Regions from separate parts of the Homo sapiens genome. Here region 2 is linked to region 1. Evidence: fine-mapped expression QTL. Tissue or cell type: whole blood. Region 1 holds a variant in brackets; the other region holds the start of a gene. All regions are shown on one strand. Distances are from middle to middle.

Region 1 (10,644 bases):
CTGATGCTTTAAGTGGCCAGTGGCCAGCATCCCACAGTGATCAGTCAACAGCATAGAGTTAGAACAGGACTTCCCAACCTCAGCACCAATGACATTTGCACACTTCGCTGTGGGGCCTTTCCTGTGCAGTGTAGGATATTTAGCAACATCACTCATCTCTACCCACTAGATGCCAATATCATCCCCCGACGCCTTGCCACCTCCAGCCCGGTTCTGACAACCAAAAATGTCTCCAGGCATTGCCAAATATCCTCTTGGGGTGGAGGTGGGTGGGTAAAATAACCCGCCGGTTGAGAGCCACTGTGTTAGAAAGATTGTACACATCTTTATTTCGTGAGTCAGTCATGAGAGCAGAAGAAGGCATGGAATTTGGCATAGGAAACTGAATGAAAGTTCGTGTTTGTTTTTCCAAAAATAAGCTCTTAGGCCAGGCACAGTGGCTCATGCCTGTAGTCCCAGCACTTTGGGAGGCCAAGGAGGGTAGATTGCTTGAGCCCAGGAGTTCGAGACTAGCCTGGGCAACGTAGTAAGAGCCCATCTCTAAAAGAAAAAAAAAAGAAGGAAACTTTTGTATTGTTTCAGTGAAGTTGTTAGTCACTGATGATTATTTCAAAATCAGCAGAAATGAAGCGAGGGAATGCTTTTCCTTTTTCTTTGCTGGGATAATGCAGCTCCCACAGGGTCTGTGTGTTGTGTTCTTGAGACCTGCCTTTTATGAGTGCAGAATAAGGTGGCTACCTATAGAGTTGTGTTGAGGGATGTTGTGCTCTACATATATCATCTCATTTAATTCTTTTCATAATCCCAAGAGGTAGATACTATTATTATTTCCATTTTATAGATGAGAAAACTGTGTATCATGGAGATGGACAAAACTTGTCAGGCTCTCACAGCTGGGAAACACTTTAATCACTATTCTTCTTCCAGCCAAAAGTTCAGAATGATGGATTTGGAGTCTACTTCAAATCCTGATTCTTCCATGCTACTGTGACTTGTGCAGTTACTTAAATGTACTCATCAAGAAGTGCCATGGTGTTTATTTTTAACCATCTATTTTTTTTTTTTTTTTTTTTTGGAGACGGAGTCTCGCTGTGTCGCCCAGGCTGGAGTGCAGTGGCATGATCTCGGCTCACTGCAAGCTCCGCCTCCCGGGTTCACGCCATTCTCCTGCCTCAGCCTCCTGAGTAGCTGGGACTACAGGCACCCGCCACCACGCCCGGCTAATTTTTTGTATTTTTAGTAGAGATGGGGTTTCACCCTGTTAACCAGGATGGTCTCCATCTCCTGACCTTGTGATCCGCCCGCCTCAGCCTCCCAAAGTGCTGGGATTACAGGCGTGAGCCACCACGCCTGGCCGCCATCTATTATTTATATATATATATATATATAATTTTTTGTTTTTGAGACGGAGCCTTTCTTTGTTTCCCAGGATAGAGTGCAGTGGCGCTATCTGGGCTCACTGTAACCTCTGCCTCCTGGGTTCAAGAAATTCTCCTGCCTCAGCCTCCCAAGTAGCTGGGATTACAGATGCCCGCCACTACACCTGGCTAATTTTTTTATTTTTATTTTTTGTATTTTTAGTAGAGACAGGGTTTCACCATATTGGCCAGGCTGGTTTCAAACTCCTGAACTCAAGTGATCCGCCCACCTCAGCCTCCCAAAGTGCTGGGATTGCAGGCGTGAGCCACCGCACCCAGCCATATTATCTTTGAGTTCTCATCCCTACAAAAGGCCTGGCTTTAGAAAGTGATTCCAGGCATGTGTATTTCCCCTAAAGGGGATTCACTTAAATGATTCAGCAAAACCATTTTGTATTCAGAAGCAAAAATAAGAACTGGAAAAAGGGAAGAAGCAAAGAACAGTTAAAATAGGGGACAAGCCTTGGTCAACCCTTTCCCTTCCTCCCAAGATGTTGCCTTTGCCACTTGTCTCATGTTTTGGTCTTATCTAGGCCTCAAAGACACCAGATACGACATAAAAACCAGTTCTTAGAGGATACACCTATCGGAAAAGCCTATATAAGTGTTTTGATATTTTTGATTTCAGGAATTCAGAAATGTCTCAGGATGTCAAGAATGTTGTGAACACCACATAGAAAAGATACAAAGTCAAATTCCAAATTATTATCGTTTACAAAGAAAAGTGACAGGGAAGGGAAACTGAAAATTAGTGTTTATTGAATACCTAAAATGTATTCAGACAAAAATAGACTAGAACTAATTAGCATAATTATTGTAATCCTAGATAAATATCAAATGTCAGAAAAAGGGTAATTTTTAAAAATATGAATCTTCCATTATGGATAGAAATATCTGGTTTGTTTTTTTTAAGTAGTGGTTCTAACCCCTGGCCAAATTATCTTGAGTGCTTTTGAAAAATACTGATGCAGAATCTCTGGCGGCCACCCAGGCACTGGTATTTTTTTAAATCTCTTTAGATAATTCTAATATCCCCATCTGTCTTTTTTTTTTTTTTTTTTGAGAGAGTCTTACTCATCTGTTGCCCAGGCTGAAGTGCAGTGATGTGATCTCGGCTCACTGAAACCTTTGCCTCCTGGGTTCAAGAGATTCTCCTGCATCAACCTTCTGAGTATCTGGGATTACAGGCATGGGCCACCGTGCCCAGCTAATTTTTGTATTTTTAGTAGAGACGGGGTTTCACCATGTTGGCCAGGCTGGTCTTGAATTCTAGACCTCAAGTGATCCTCCCACCTCAGCCTCCCAAAGTGCTGTGAGCCACCGTGCCCAGCCTAATGTTCCCATCCATCTGAGAACCATTGCTCTGAAAGCTCAAGCTCAGCCAAGCAGATTTACTGTGACTGCTTGCTGTCAATCTACCCCTTCCACAGGGAATTGTGAGAGTCCTTATGTTGCTTAATAGCCATGTTCATGGTATAAAGATCATGAATTGTGGGGTGCTCCAGTGGGTTTGGATAAAAATCCACTTACTAGTGTGCTACACTGGCAAATTATTTACTTTCTCTGAGCGTCCATTCCTTCGTCAATCAAACACACTTCTTACTTTTTCCCACTTAAGGGTTTTGAGAGAATTAAATGAAACAGCATCTCTGAAAGTGTTCTGAGCAGAGTGACACTCCGGTTAATGAATCTTAATTTACTTTTAACTTCGTTACGACTTTATACATAGTGGGTAGGCATTAAATGTTTTGGGGGAAAAAAACCTGGCAGCTCCTTTAATTTAACTGGATAAAGGCAATTGTCATTCTAATCCTAGCAAACCAGTCTGTCATTGCATGAGAGAACTGAGTACATTTTCCCTGAGTATTTTATATACGCCACAAAAATATCACACCCGAGTATTATGAAATTGATTGCAGCTGTGGGCGTGACTTACCAATCTCCTTTCTTTGAAAACCTTTAGATTGAGGAAAGGACAATCCACGGAAGACTGAGGAAGGGACAGAAGGCCAACTCTAAATGTTTGTGGGACAAAAAAACCCGTCTCACTTTTTCTACTTCTATATAATCATCCTAAATAGCATGTTTCAGGCCAGGCGCAGTGGCTCAAACCTGTAATCCCAGCACTTTGGGAGGCCGAGGCGAGCAGATCACTCGAGGTCAGGAGTTTGAGACCAGCCTGACCAACATGTTGAAACCCCCATCTCTACTAAAAATACAAAAATTAGCTGGGCGTGATGGTGTGCACCTGTAGTCCCAGCTATTCAGGAGGCTGAGGCAGGAGAATTGCTTGATCCCGGGAGGCAGAAGTTTCAGTGAACCGAGATCGCACCACTGCACTCCAGTCTCAGCAACAGAGCAAGACCCTGTCTCTAAATAAATAAATAAAAATAGCATGTTTCTAAGGCTGTGGCTCTGTCAGTGGAGCCCCACTGTGATTCGGTAGATGCGAGTGACTCAGTGTGGCTTTGCTTAGGTAGCAATAACTGTTCATGCACTTCTGCTTCCACGCCGACTGCTTCATACTTACTCCAGTTCTGTTGTTGCAGCACGCTCTTTTTCTTGCTGTCAAGGACATTGTTGTTGCTGGAATGGCCTGGAAATGACATCAACAGGAAAGATGAGTATTATAACTTCTCATCAGAAGAAAAAATAGTAATCTTCACCTTCCGTTTACCACCAGTTGTGGGAAATCAAGGCTCAAAGAACAAAAAGGGAATTTGGCAATATCCGTGGTTTTGTGAACCTTGTCATCCCAGTTTCAACCAGAAAGATTAAAAGTGGCGGCGGGAACAGGGGAATTCAAGACAGGAGTTTTGAAGTCTTCTATCTACATTCTTAGTTCACTCTGAGTCATCTGCAGAGAATTGGATTTTAAATAGATTAGGATGACTTATTTATACATTATTTTTGGAAGAAATGTTTCTGAAAGAATTGGCTGCATCATCCAAACTCTGTTGTTTGTTTGTTTAAAGAGTAGGGGTCTCACTCTCTTACCCAGGCCAGAGTGCAGTGATACGAGCATAGCTCACTGTAGCCTTGAACTCCTGGGCTCAAATAATCCTCCTGCCTTAGCCTCCTGAGTAGCTAGGACCACAGGTGTAGACCACCACACCTGGCTAATTTTAAAAATATTTTTGTAGAAGCAAGATCTCACTCTGTTGCCCAGACTGGTCCTGAACTCCTGGCCTCAAGAAAACCTCCTGCCAAGAAAACTAAAGATGTGAGCCATTACGCCTGGCCCGATTTCCCAGAAATTGTATGGATTATTCTGGCAAACCTGCAGAAAAGAAATTGATGGTTTTGTTTGCCTGGCAGTTGGGAACAAATCATTCTGTCACCACCCACTCCCACTAGCCTTTCTTTTCCCAGGATCCCGGCTATCTTGCTGGTTTCCCCAAACTTATATTTGAGAATTATTTTTGGTTCCA[C/T]GTTCTCCTTTCTCTTCCTATATCCATGATATGTAATGATCTCACTTTATATATTGATGCTCAGAAATCTATAGATCGCATTCTGCCTTCAGGGAAATACACGTTGCCAAGGAAAGCTGTAAGAAAGAACACCATATTCTCAGGACTTGGGTTTCAATTTTTAGTATATCTAGGCAGCAGCTACGACTAGAAATTCTTACTGGAAGGAGTTTTGTATCATTGAAGGGTGGAATGTAATTATTTCCTTCCGCTTGAGAAATTTTAGGCGTAGGTTTTTTTGCCATCTCAGCACAGCTGCCCTTGAGTGGTTTTTCTCTCTCCTTCTACTCTCATTCTCTAACATTTTCCCGAGCTCTGGCGAATGCCAGACTCTGTTACAGGCACTTTACACGCCTTAGTTTATTCCATCCTCATAATAATCCTATGAGGTAGGTGCTATTATTATTCCCATTTTACCAATGAGAAAACTGAGGCATAGAAAGGACAAATTACTCAAATTGTCCTTCTACTTTCTTGGTAGAAGGGTTGGGATTCAAAACTAGTCATTTGGCTGGGCGCGGTGGCTCATGTCTGTAATCCCAGCACTTTAGGAGGCCGAGGTGGGTGGATCACGAGGTCAGGAGATCGAGACCAGCCTGGCCAACATGAGGAAACCCCGTCTCTACTAAAAATACAAAAATTAGCTGGGCGAGGTGGTGCACACCTGTAGCCCCAGCTACTCAGGAAGCTGAGGCAGAATTACTTGAACCTGGGAGACAGAGGTTGCAGTTAGCTGAGATCATGTGACTGCACTCCGGCCTGGCGACAGAGCGAGACTCTATCTCAAAAAAACAAACAACAACAACAAAAAAAGCTAGTCATTTGGGGTGCAGAGCCCACATAGTTTTTTGTTTTGTTTTGTTTTTTTGAGACAGGGTCTCACTCTGTCACCCAGGCTGAAGTGCGGTGGCATGATCACGGTTCACTGCAGCCTCAACACCCAGGGCTCAAGTGATCCTCCCACCTCAGCCTCCCGAGTCGTTGGGACTACAGATGCATGCCATCACGCCCTGTTAGTTTTAATTTATTCTGGGGGGCATTTTTTTGTAGAGACGGGGATTTTGCCATGTTGCCCAGGCTGGTCTCGAACTCCTGGGCTCAAGTGATCGCCTCGGCCTCCTAAAGCATTGAGATTACAGGTGAGCCTCTGTGCTCAGCCGGGACTCTTAATCCCTATTCCACACTGACTCAAGTCTTACAATTCTCCCCTATTCCTACCTAGAGTTTGTTCATTCTCATCTTCCCTGCTGCCTTCACCCTTGCCCATCTCATTGTCCTTCCAGTTACTCCCACTCTGATTCATTTATCCAAGGCCACATCTGCCTTTATTCTTTTAGCACGGGTTTAAAGTTTATGCCTCTTTACAAGGCAGCTTTCCTAACAAACCTCACTCCATCTGATGATGTACTGCCTCCATGTCACTTTGTATTATTATCAAGCTTTGCTTACACATTGCCTTGAACACCACCACCCTCCTTATTTAGAGGCCACATGTGTATATGGCTGCCTAGCCACCTTGGCGCATAGCTGAAAGCCCAGAAGAAAAGGGAAAAGAAATTTTAGCTCCCAAATAGGTATCAGTATTCGTGCACTAAACATCTTTTATTGTACACATAAGCTGTACTGCCTTTTGAGCTTACAGGACAAATCATTTAGAACGGGAACTGGCAAACTATGGCCCACCACCTCTTTCTTGTAAATAAAGTTTTATTGGAACACAGTCACATCCATGTATTTACATATTGTCTATGGCTACTTTTGTGCACCAAGAGTAGAGTTAAATTGTGTGGAAGAGGCCGGGCGCGGTGGCTCACGTCTGTAATCCCAGCACTTCAGGAAGCCAAGGTGGGCGGATCACGAGATCAGGAGATCGAGACCATCCTGGCCAACATGGTGAAACCCCATCTCTACTAAAATACAAAAAATTAGCCGGGCTTGGTGGCACGTGCCTGTAGTCCCAGCTACCAGGGAGCCTGAGGCAGAGGACTCGCTTGAACGCGGGAGGCAGAGGTTGCAGTGAGCCGAGATCGCGCCACTGCACTCCAGCCTGGTGACAGAGCGAGACTCCGTCTCAAAAAAAAAAAAAAAAAAATATGTGGAAGAGGCTGGTTTATAAACCGAAAATATTGGCTGAATATTTACAGTTTGCCAGCTACAGATTTAGAAAATTAATGATTCTTTTAAAAGAAAGTGCAAGTGTACTCCAGCCTAGATGACAAAGTGAGACCCTGTCTAAAAAAAAAAAAAAAAAAAAAAAAGTGGATTGACATTACAACTTAAATGGATAAATTGTTCTATTTTCCTTGTTGATGCAAACTGAACTCTGGTAACTTTCTTGAAGATAAGTTTATTTCAGAGTTACTAAATATTTCCTTTCATGATTCACTTACAAAGGGGTTTTATAAAGGGACAATTACTTACAGTGTATAAGTCACCACCCCACCGACTTCAAGGCGTATTAACACATCTTTGTAATGCTGTTACTGGTGATTTGACAACTCGCTGCGGTTTCAACCGCTTTCCCATTCAGAGCTCCGGAAATTGGAGGGGCTCTTTAGACAGACACTAAAACTGTGAATGGTGTGTGTGTGTGTGTGTGTATGAATTATATATAAATTTTCCAGATAATCTCCTGCCAAAATGAGTAATTATGAGAACACACTTTCTCTTCATTTCCTAAGCATATTTGAATGCCTGAGTTTTTGTAAAATTAAAAGTCTTGCTAGTCTTTTGTTTTTAAAAAGGAAAGTAATATTGTTGATTTTTTCTTACAGAGCCCCCTAATTGTATTTAGTTTGAGAAGTTACATGATTTTACAAATGAAGTGTGGAAAAACTTCAGACCATTAAAAATCCTGTGATGAAATTCAGACTTTTGGGAGTCCTCTAAGAACTTGAACATGAGAGTAACACACAAAGTCATAGCTCATTACAAATATCAAAACTATATTTTGCAGCCAGGCATGGTGGCTCATGCCTGTAATTCTGGCACTTCGGGAGGCCAAGACAGGAGGCTTGCTTGAACCCAGGAGTTTGACCCCAACCTGGGCAATATAGTGAGACCCTATCTACAAAAAAAAAAAAAAAATTTTGAGACAGAGTCTCACTCTGTCACCTAGGCTGGAGTGCAGTGGCACAATCTCGGCTCTCTGCAACTCCTGCCTCTGGGTACAAGTGATTCTCCTGCCTCAGCCTCCCGAGTAGCTGGGATTACAGGCATGCACCACCATGCCTGGCTAATTTTTGTATTTTTTGATAGAAACGGGTTTCTCCATGTTGGCCAGGCTGGTCTCGAACTCCTGCCCTCAGGTGATCTACCCACCTCAGCCTCTCAAGATGCTGGGATTACAGGCATAAGCCACCATACCTGGCCAAAAAAAAATTTAAGATAAGCTGGGCAATAGTGGTGCATGCCTATAGTCCCAGCTACTGAGGAGGCTGAAGTGGGAGGATCACTTGATCCCAGGAGGTTGAGGATGCAGTGAGTTGTGCTCACAGCACTGCATTCTAGCTTGAGTGACAGAGCATGACCTTGTCTCAAAAACAATGACCAAAAAAAACCAAAGAAAACCCACAAAAGTATATTTTACAAATGTTTGTCATGCCTAATGTCTTCTCATCTGTTTAACTTTCAACAATTTGTTTTTTTCTTTTGAGATGGAGTCTTGCTCTGTCACCTAGGCTGGAGTACAGTGGCGCGATCTCAGCTTACTGCGAGCTCCACCTCCTGGGTTCACACCATTCCCTTGCCGCAGCCTCCTGAGTAGCTAGGACAACAGGAGCCCACCACCAAGCCTGGCTAATTTTTTATATTTTTAGTAGAGACGGCGTTTCACCGTGTTAGCCAGGACGGTCTTGATCTCCTGACCTCGTGATTCGCCCGCCTCGGCCTCCCAAAGTGCTGGGATTACAGACATGAGCCACCGTGCCTGGCCAGCTTTCAACAATTTGTTCTCCATTAAGACTTCAATAGTTGACTTTGATGAGTTACTATTATCTAATAAGTGAACTCAATGAATAAGCATGATTAAGATCAGGCTCACAACCTCATATAAAATAAAATGGCCTTTCTGTTTATATGTTTTCAAGGAAACATTTTGAGATCTTTTTAAAAATACTCGAACAAATAACATTTGTATTGATTTTTCCATTTAAAGTTAAAGATAATTAAGTACATCACATTTTTACTTAGTCATAGTTTTAGAAGATGAAAAGTCCGCCTCCGTTTTAAGTAAGTCATGAAGCCATAAAATGAATATATTTCATGATGTAATCAATAATGAATTCCATAGTTTGTATAATTATCTACTTCCTGCAAAATCCCATTTTTGGTAACAATACTAATTTGAAACACTACAGTAATTCTGGAAAGATTTCAAGAACTATGACCAAAGTGCTTATCACAGGCAGTGATTTCTTCTCTATTAACTTTTTTGTGTAGTTACTAGTATATTGAAAGCTCAGTATTTTGAACTAGTGAGTATTTTCATGGATATTATAAAGGACATATTAATAAATTCCTTTGAAAAACACTTTCTTCCACATTCTCTATCTATCTGAGGATCATGAAAATATACCTGTAGTCTGAGCCCTTTTTACCACCCACCTGTTTGCTTGTGGGCATAGCCTCTGTCTATAAAGTTCATATTGGACTTTTCAAAGAGTTGTCTGATGCTTTAATGACATTCTATAATACAGAATAATAGAGATAGTCTGGTGTTTATATCTTTGATAATACTTACTGAGGGTGATAAAGTAAACTTAGCTGTAGAACGAGGAAGTTCAGATTCTCTGAAACTGTTCCACGAGTTTCTATAATCTTTCTGTGACTCAGTTTCCTGGTCACTTGACTTTATGGATTAATTTATAGATTATATCTTTCACCTCTGGCAGCCCTGAGACAGGTGTTGAGGACTACGGTACTAGCACTGGTGGAAAAACAGAGTTTTGACGTCAGATAAATCTGGAATTTCACATCCATTAGGTGACCTTGTTAACATTCCTAACTTTCTATCTGCTGGCCTATAAAATTCAAGTGATAATAAATGCACACATTATTATAGAGACTAAATGAGATAACAAGGTAATGTATGAACCCAGTAGCTGGCCTTTGGCAGACGGCCAATAAATGAGCACTTATGTCCTTCTGTCTGTCTCTGCCTTTCTCTTTCTCTTCTCTCCCTGCCACACCCGCCACCATCCTAAAATGAAGAATACAGGAGATGTAGGTATGTGTCATCGCCACCTCCGACTCCTTTAATGCTAATACATTTTTTTTAATCTCATGGGATTTGTGGCAGAGCCAATTTATATCTAAAGCTGCATGTGTTATTCTAAGTGGATTGTCTTAACTCAGGAACTTCTAGGAGCTTCATGGAAATTGCTATCGTTAAGTCATGCTCAGCCAGCTGCTCCTGGCTTCTGGTGTAAGCAAATGCAAAAGAGGCTTCTACTACTCAAGCAGAGAGAAGCCTTCTACAGGGAAGAAAACAGACACACGGATGTACAGTTGCTTCATGCTGTTGAGTTGCAATGTGTTTTCTGTCTCTCAGCCTGGAAGAGAGCATTCATGGCAGTGTGAAGAAATAGCCCAAAACTTTCCAAAAGCTTTTTCTTTAATTAGATCTTTCTACCTAAAGCAGAGGAACAGATTCTTTGTGATGGTAAAGGAAGAGTGTTTTTGTAAATCTGGGGATAATACCAGCAGCAGTAACTGATCATAATTCAGAATCAGTGATTCAAGTAGAAAACTATGTC
Region 2 (9,321 bases), 48 kb before region 1:
GAACATCATTTCTAAAGGTTTTAAAGGTTACGATTATAGATTGGTGCAAAAGTAATTGTGGTTTTTCCCATTGACAGTAATGGCAAACTGCAATTACCTTTGCACTGTTGATGAAAAAAGTCAAACTCCATAAAATATTTTTAGAGATTTATTCTGAGCCAAATATGAGTGACCATGGCCCGTGACACAGCCTTCAGGAGGTCCTGAGAACATGTGCCCAAGGTGGTCGGGGAGCAGCTTGGCTTTACATATTTTAAGGAGGCATGAGACATCAATCAAATACATTTAAGAAATATACTGGTTTGGTTCAGAAAGGCGGGACAATTCAAAGTAGGGGCTTCTGGGCTATAGGTAAATTTAAACATTTTCTGGTTGACAATTGGTTGAGTTTATCTGAAGACCTGGGACCCACAGAAAGGAACTGTTCAGGTTAAGATAAAGGACTGTGGAGACCCAGTTTTATTGTGCAGAGGAAGCTCTCAGCAGGACTTTAGAGAGACAGTAGGTTGTAAAATTTTGTTTCTTATCGGAACTAAATGGGTGCCTGGCTCTTAGCTGATTATCTCCTAGATCTGGAAAGGAAGTGAGAGGTGACAACGTGTTAGCAGCCCTCGCTCACTCTCAGCTCCTCCTCGGCCTCGGCGTCCGCTCAGGCCATGCTTGAAGAGCCCTTCAGCCTGCCGCTGCACTGTGGGAGCCCCTCTTTGGGCTGGTCGAGGCCAGAGCCGGCTCTCTCAGCTTGCAGGGAGGTGTGGGGGGAGAGGCGCAGGCAGGAACCAGGGCTGTGTGCAGTGCTCGCAGGCCAGCACGCGTTCCGTGTGGGTGCGGGCTTGGCAGGCCCCACGCTCAAAGTGGCCGGCCAGCACCGCTGGCCCCAGGCAGTGAGGGGCTTAGCACTCAGGCCAGCAGCTGCAGAGGGTGCGCCGGGTCCCCCAGCACTACCAGCCCACCTGCGCCACGCTTGGATTCTCACCGGGCCTCAGCCACCTCCCCACGGGGCAGGGCTCAGGACCTGCAGCTCACCATGCCCGAGCCACCCCCACCATGGGCTCCCTCACAGCCTGAGCCTCCCTGATGGGCACCGCCCCCTGCTCCACGGCGCCTGGTCCCATCGACCGCACAAGAGCTGAGGTGTGCATGTGCGCAGCACGGGACTGGAGGGCAGCTCTGCCCACAGCCCCAGCACAGGATCCACTAGGCAAAGCCAACTGGACTCTAGAGTCAGGTGGGGTCTTGGAGAACTTTTATGTCTAGCTGGAAGATTGTATATGCACCAATCAGCACTCTGTGTCTAGGTCGGGGTTTGTGGATGCACCAATCAGCACTCTGTATCTAGCTAATCTGGTGGGGACTTGGAGAACTTTTACGTCTAGCTAGAGGATTGTAAATGCACCAATCAGCACTCTGTGTCTAGCTCAAGGTTTGTAAACACACCAATCAGTGCTCTGTGTGTAGCTAAAGGTTTGTAAACGCACCAATCAGTGCTCTGTGTCTAGCTAATCCAGTGGGGACTTGGAGAACTTTTATGTCTAGCTAGACGATTGTAGATGCATCAATCAGCACTCTGTCTCTAGCTAAAGGTTTGTAAACATACCAATCAGTGCTCTGTGTCTAGCTAATCTAGTGGGGACTTGGAGAACTTTTATGTCTAGCTAGAGGATTGTAAATGCATCAATCAGCACTCTCTGTCTAGCTAAATGTTTGTAAACGCAACAATCAGTGCTCTGTGTCTAGTAATCTGGTGGGGACTTGGAGAACTTTTATGTCTAGCTGGAGGATTGTAAATGCACCAATCAGCACTCTGTGTCTAGCTCAGGGATTGTAAATGCACCAATCAGCACCCTGTCAAAATGGACCAATCAGCTTTCTGTAAAATGGACCAATCAGCTCTCTGTAAAATGGACCAATCAGCAGGATGTGGGTGGGGGCCAGATAAAGGAATAAAAGCAGGCTGACTGGGCCAGCAGCAGCAACCTGCTGGGGTCCCCTTTCATGTTGTAGAAGCTTTGTTCTTTTGCTCTTTGCAATAAATCTTGCTGCTGCTCACTCTTTGGGTCCACGCTGCCTTTATGAGCTGTAACACTCACCGCGAAGGTCTGCAGCTTCACTCCTGAAGCCAGCAAGACCACAAACCCACCAGGAGGGACAAATAACTCTGGACAGGAGGAATGAACAACTCCAGATGTGCTGCCTTTAAGAGCTGTAACAGTCACCGCAAAGGTCTGCAGCTCCACTCCTGAAGCCAGCAAGACCATGAGCCCACCAGAAGGAAGAAACTCCGGACACATCTGAACATCTGAAGAAACAAACTCCGGACACATGACACACCATCTTTAAGAACTGTAAGACTCACCGCAAGTATTCGCAGCTTCATTCTTGAAGTCGGCGAGACCAAGAACCCACCAATTCCGGACACAGAAGGAAGGAAAACAAAGGGGAAAGCAGATTCTCTACAGAATGTGGATTTTTCCCATAAGAGACTTTGCAGGACAATTTCAAGGTAGGGCAAGGAAAGATATTTTTGGGTAAAATATTTTTATTTTCTTCCTTATTATGCCAGAGTCAGATTGGAAAGTAAGTCATGATATACACGGTTAAATAAAACCCATCTGATGTGCATTTATGGTTTGGAGAACATGACTCCCCAAACCCCTTAGATAGGAATTTGAGCAAGATAAAAAAATCAGAGCTTAGTCCTCAGAACCAACCTAATGCATGATCTCCCAACTTGATCTCTATCTTCCCACAAAAGATTGACTTGGAATGACTTATTATTCCTAAAAATCAATCTATTCTTAAAGGCTTATTTGTCTCTGTAGGGTAGTTGTTAAGAGTTAAAGAAAGAAGAGAGAAACACAAAAAGTGGCTCAACAATCAAGGATAGGTTTATTTTAGAGAATAAACCTGAGAGGGGCTTCTGGCCAATTTTGGTCAGGAGCACTCTCTCTTACAGACTAAGAGTATTTAAGGGTTTAGGGTGAGAGAGCTTATCACAGGCTTGGAATATTTCTGCTTGGAGGAGAAGTTTATTACAGGGTTGGAATGTCTCTGGTTGGAGGGGAGGGGTTATCTTGGGGCTGACATCGCTCCGGTCAGAGGGAAGGTTATCTTGGGGCTGACATCGCTCGGTCAGAGGGAAGGTTATCTTGGGGCTGGCATGTGTCTGGTGGGAGAGGGGTTTATCTTAGAGTTAGAATGTTTCTGGTCGGAGGTGTCATTTGTGGTTTGTGGTCATGCTGACAGCCATTAGGCTGATGCCCTCTGGGTTGGATTTAGGTGGTTTTTGATCAAGGGGCACTTTAAAATGGCAGTGCTTCTGCTCTGTCAATAGTAGGATATGCCAACCCAAAATATGGCACTTTGGCATAAAGATTATTTTCGAGTCAAAGGCACTTAAAAAAAAAATGCAAAAAGAGCACTGTGGCTTTCCTTTTTCCTTCCTGAAAGCAGGAGATAAAACTTCCGTATGAAAGGTGCCCTCCCTGTATAAGGAGGAAGGGAGATGTTCTCAACACCAGAGACATGGAGTCAAAGCTGAGCTGTATCTGCACAAACTTACCGATTTTCATTTCCACTTTGTTACAACAACCTTTATCTTCTTAGTCACTTCTGCATTAACTGCACTAACCCAAATCTGTTTGTTTTCTCACATTTTCACAATTTACTACTCTTTTTAGCCTTCCCTAGAAAAATGGAGACTCAAAAGCACTTAGGGTCCAACTGTTAATTTGGGTCTCCATTTTTCTAGGGAAGGCTCCAATGTAAATGTAAAAATTACTAAATAAAATTTGTATGCTTTCCTCCTGTTATGTTTTATGTCTCTATTTTACGTCAGTGGAGACTAAGCTCTGATTTTTTTTTTAATCTTGCTCAAATTCCTATCTAAGGGGCCTAGGGATTCATGCCCTACAATCCATAAATTCTCATCAGATGGGTTTTATTTAACCCTATATATTGTGACTTACTTTCCAATCTGACACTGGCATAACGAGACAAGAAACAAAATCAAAATATTTTACCGCAAAACATTTTTTTTAGTTTTTGACATATCTTGAAACGGCTCTGCAAAGCTGTCCTTTGTTGGGGGAAAATCTGCATCTACATAGAATTTCTATTAACATAGCTAGATCATTTTCTTCCAGGTCCTCCCAATCCTAAAGAGATTACGTAAGAATCTAGCACCTTTTAAAGATCTGAATAGGAAACATTTGTCATCCATTGTCTCTAAGGGCAGCCACTATAAGACTTCAAAAGAACCTTGGTCTCCACAATCTTTTATTTTAACCTCAACATTTCCTTTCTATGGGTCCCAGGTCTTCAACTGTCAACCAGAAAATGTTTAAATTTACCTACAGCCTTGGAAGCCCCTGCTTTGAGTTGTCCCACCTTTCTGAACCAAACCAATGTAGTTCTTAAATTTATTTGATTGATGTCTCATGCCTCCCTAAAATACATAAAACCAAGCTGCGCCCCAACCACCTTGGACACATGTTCTCAGGACCTCCTGAGGGCTCTGTCACGGGCCATGGTCACTCACATTTGGCTCAGAATAAATCTCTTCAAATATTTTAGAGTTTGACTCTTTTCCTCATCAGTTTAATTCTTAGGCCCAGCCAAGACCCCAAGAGGGGAGAGGAAATATTTTCACTTTCCCTACACCAGTGTTAAGAAGCCCAAGAACGCAATTCAGAGGGCTTCCCAAATCATTTTGAAGAATGGTAACATCTCTAGAATATCAATTAGATCGTAGGGGAGTACATAAGTCATGTGTACACCTTTAGGTGTTTGTGAAAACCAAGGCATATAAAATATCACATTATTTGGCCTCAGTACATTCCCATACTGACAAGCACTGTACCATTTTTCCCCCGCTCTAAGCAAGGGCTTCCTGGGGGGAAGAGTCTGTGGTTGGGTGTTCAGAAGCAGAGAGTGCTCTCCCAAAGCTAAACGATGCCGCCAACTACTGTGAAACTTAACTTCCCCTCTCCCGGAATTCTCATGGAAGACAAGGTCTGATCAACCGAGGGCTTAAGAAGTATCAAATTGGAACTCATGGAATCACTGGCGGAGCTGATTTACATATGAGAATTCCTAAGCCTCACAGCATAGAAATTTTCATGCCAGATGGTCCTGAAAAAGTTGTTTTAATTGGCTACCAAAGGTTTACCTTGCAAACACCAAGTTCTTAAAGATTACAAAATCTAATAAAGCCGAAGTGTGAATTAAACTTAACCGCAAGAGGAGTCACCTGCGGTCACCTCGTTTCGCCCACAACAAAGATGTCTGCGCATCGCTTACCGTGGAGCCGTTCCAGTGCGTGGGCCACGCGTCCGCCCTTTTCCGCGTCACATGACCACGAACACTCTTCCGCTACGGCTCCCAGAAGGGGCCAGCCCGCGCCTTTCGCGCTTCTGCCCTGGCCCTCTGCGGGCCGCTCCGCCGGTGCTGTCCCTGGGCGCCTCCGTGCTCTCAGCCAACCACCTCTGAGAGCGCCCACTCGAGCGCCCCGGGAGCCAGAGGGCGGGGGTCCTCGCCGGGACCCTCCTGTGGGCCCAGGGGTGAGTGTTGACGTCTTCCCGACCCGCGACCTGCCGCCCGAGCTGGCTGCCAGGCCTATCGCCGCCGCCGAGACCCTCCGGCCAACAGGGACCCGCGGTGGCCCCGGCCCCCCCGGTAGTGTCTCCCTGACCCGAGTCCCGTCCCCGGGCCTCTTGCCTTCAACCCTGGTCTTTCCTCCTCCCCGGGACCTTGAGTCCCCGAGGAGAGCGAGGGAGAGGAGCGTCTTCTGCAGGTGTTTTTGGGCGAACCTCTTCACCTTGTGTGGTTCGGCGTCTCCTTTTGTGTATTAACCCGGACTTTTCCGACTGGAAAATAGGGGTTTGGGAAGCAGCGGGAGTCCCGTGAGCGTGAACGCCGGGCTTTGCAGGTCTTCACTCATCCTTCCCTGCCAAGGCCCTGACACCTTACAGGCTGACCTTAAACCTGCCTTGTTTAAAAGGAGGTTTTTGTGTTGTTTTGTGGCAAGTACATTTTGGAAAAGAAGGGCCTTGTTGGAAGCCCAGGTTGTGGCATCGCGGGTGGCTGCGGGCCACCCTGTCCGTCTGTGAGCATCCCTGCTCGCAGATGTGGCTGCAGGCAGTTGCTCTCGGGTTTCCTTCCAGGAGCTGGGAAGCCGGAGGAAAGCTGCGGTTCCTGTTCCGCCGAGCTTCTGACCTTCCTCTGCAGGACGTGTGCTACTATTACTATCGTAAAAGAACACCCCTGTCTACCTCCCACAAAGTTAGAAGCAAAGGGCATTCTCGAGGGAAGAGCACCCTTTCAAAAGTGACATGTTTTCATTGGAGAACATTAAAGGGGAAAAAAAAAAAAAAGGTTTCTGGCCCTTCTGCCCAAATATAGAACCATTTGTATTCAGGCCTCTCATCCACCGAGAGACTTAAGATGATCACAAATGTTTTGTCTCCCTGCGTGAAAAACATTTTTTCTGCCTCAATTCCGTTGGCTAATGAGAGCCCAAAAGAAAAACCCTTAGGAAAATTAGGACGATTTAGTTATACTTAGTAGTCTTTTCCCATGCAATTAAATTGCTTGGGGGACCTTCTATCTTTTGGTTTCAAAGGCTTGTATATTGGTTTTGCCATTTTTTCCAAAAGGAAATTGTGTTCTCTCCCTTCCTGTCTGATAGAGCTGCCTCCTTTCAGAATTGCAAAGTTTAGTCTTCGCTCTCCTCTCTTCTGGTATTGAAACTTTTCTGTGGGTTCATAACCTTATTTTAAAGTTCATTAATATATAGTTTTAAAAGTTTGCAGTGACTTTTTAAATATAGTTTCTTTGAAAAAGAACTGAAACAGGGTGTGCAGAGTGGCCCATCTGTGTGAACTAGGTCCACGCAGTAGGTAATAAACAACTGGAGGGTTTTTTTTGGTTTGTTTTTGTTTGTTTGTATGTTTGTTTTTGAAAAGTACATAAACATTTGCAACCACAGTCAGTTTGACTCAAGTTGTTTCGGTGACTTCCGAGGCTTTCTGGGTTCCAGTGTTCTAATACAGAAAATGAGAAAGTTGGGCTGGAATCATTGTGTCCCAAAATTGGTACACTTTCCGCTAGTGGCATGTGACTTGACTCTAGGCGGTACGTGGATGAGGATTTTTTTGTAATAGGATGTTTTTGCAATCTGTATTTATATATGTACAGCCATGGTTTAAGGTAGTGATACAAAATTTTCTTTTACAATACTTTTTTGATTTTAAAAAGTCGAGTTAAAAAAATTAACTGTAGCAAAAAGTTAATGTACTCTGTGAATATGGGAAAAAAAAAACCCATGAAGTTGGCAAGTTAGTTACTGGTGTTTGGGAACCACTGGGCTTAGAAAGTAGAAATATGAAATCATCTGTGATTCTAAGAGAGATTTTGCCTCGTTTGTTATGTAACAGAATCACGTACTGGTTGCCTACTGGATTCTAAGGTACAAAACTTCTGGAATTAACATATCAACACCAAATGAGACGTTTATTTATTGCCAAAAGATATTATCAGAAATGCCACAGTCTAACGAGGGAGAAAAAAAATCAGATTTTGATTGGTTTTAAGCAGAAAACCCAATAATTGGGATAATACAGTGTTAAATCTTAGTAGAAATCCAGTTACTTTTTAAATGTAAGTAGTTCAGCTACAGGAGAACTTGGCTTTTTCCAGAAGTTGGCATTTCAGCATCCACCTTTATTTTCTAAGTCACTAGTTTTTTACAAACTCAGATATTCTCGTAAGAAAAGATGTTGCTATAGAATGGAATATAGTAGTGAGACCTATGAGATGTACTACTAGAAAGTTCGTAAGACTGAAATGCAATGAATGGAATGCAGAGAAAGCACATTTCAAGGAGATACTGAGGTTCTAGCCACTTGGTTCTCGTTTATTATTATAAAACTTCAATTTATAATGGCCAAAGGCTATAATCTTTTTGAGGTAGCTTTTTTCAGTGTTAGTTCTGAATATGAGCTTTTGCTATGCTTGAGATACACGCAAGTATTAGAAGAGCATCTCATCTGGAATGATGCACAAAAATTGATTATAAAGGTTGCCTGTGGGAACCTGGGTGGTTAAGGATAGGATTGAAAGTGGGACACTTCCTTTTCTCTGTATAGCTTGCGTACTTTGTACCGAGTACATGCATTACTAGTTCAAAATTTTAACATCGTAAGTGAATGAAAATTTAAACAGGCCGGGCACGGTGGCTCACACCTGTAGTCCCAGCACTTTAGGAGACGAAGGCCAGAGGATTTCTTGAGCCTAGGAGTTTGAGATCAGCCTGAACAACATAATAAGACCCTGTCTCAACAAAAAATACAAAAATTAGCTGGGTGTGGTGGCATATGCCTGTAGTCCCAGCTATTCAGGAAGCTCCATTGCAATCTAGCCCGGGTGACAAAAAAAAAAAAAAAAAAAAAAAAACCAATTCATTTGTTCTTCTTTAACATATATGTGTACCTATATGCATATATATACGTAAGTATTAGATTCATTTAAACTTACGTATTTTTCATCTGCCACATTTTTCTAAATACAAATCAGAAACAATGACAGAGCTAGTCTTTTATATTGCCTTAACTAATGAATAGTTGTAGGACCCCATCTGTGGAACTAAGATTGGTGGTAAGCTTAATTTTTTTCTTTCTTTATTTTCTTACTGGTCTCTTGATGTCAGGTTGTGCATCTTTGTGACTGTTACTATTTGGAGAATTTCCAGTAATGAATCCCTAATAGTGGTTTCATCTAGTTTCTCAATTAGCCCCTGTTTTTCTTCCCCAGGGACAAAAGTGGCTCTCAATCCAGCACATGCACATTGAAGCAAGTTAAAGGATTTAATATGAAGCACAGAAGCAGATAGTGCCAAATAGCAAGCAGTAGTTGTTACACATTTGTGAGTAAAAATGGTCCCTTTTGGCTTACTTTCTTAGTCTTTAAATCGTCTGCATGCCAAATCCTTAAAGATCTATGTCCCCAGAGATTTTTTGATAAAGAATAAAAGATGTGAGTTAGCAGTCATAGTCAAACCAGTTGCTGGGGCTGAGCGTCCTGAGCAACCTCTAAGAGCTCTCCTAGGCATCTCAGTGAGGCGGGGGCTTAGGGTGGGGCTATATCTCCAGCATGGAGTTTAGGAAATACCTTAGCCATGGTAAAGTCATGTATACTGTCTTTAACTTTTTATGTCTTTAATTTATATATAGTGTCTTTGCTGAAAATTTAGTGTAATTTCCATTTGAAGTTTACCCTAAATTTTGAAGTTTATTTTTATTTAAAGAAACCATTAGACGTCAAATA

Evidence for each region. PIP is the estimated chance that this variant, and not a neighbour inherited with it, causes the effect.
Region 2: it holds the start of MFF-DT, and the variant in region 1 is fine-mapped to the expression of MFF-DT in whole blood (TOPMed, PIP above 0.99). The same link has a PIP of 0.9 or more in T cells, blood mononuclear cells, caudate, fetal neocortex, gastroesophageal junction and lung.

Annotation. Positions count from the first base shown.
Region 1 is chr2:227,366,967-227,377,610 of GRCh38, forward strand. TM4SF20 (transmembrane 4 L six family member 20) reads right to left here. Exons shown (of 4, transcript NM_024795.4): 2 at 3,949-4,014. Among named protein-coding and RNA genes, the nearest start is that of TM4SF20, 7.0 kb to the right of the region's middle. RefSeq lists an enhancer at 3,608-4,807 and a silencer at 9,954-10,154. The variant C/T (reference allele first, on the strand shown) is at 4,850.
Region 2 is chr2:227,319,870-227,329,190 of GRCh38, forward strand. MFF-DT (MFF divergent transcript) reads right to left here and starts at 5,295. Exons shown (of 14, transcript NR_102371.1): 1 at 5,249-5,295. It overlaps MFF (mitochondrial fission factor), which reads left to right and starts at 5,382. Exons shown (of 9, transcript NM_001277062.2): 1 at 5,382-5,558; 2 at 8,809-8,920. RefSeq lists enhancers at 937-1,465, 5,204-5,253 and a silencer at 5,434-5,723.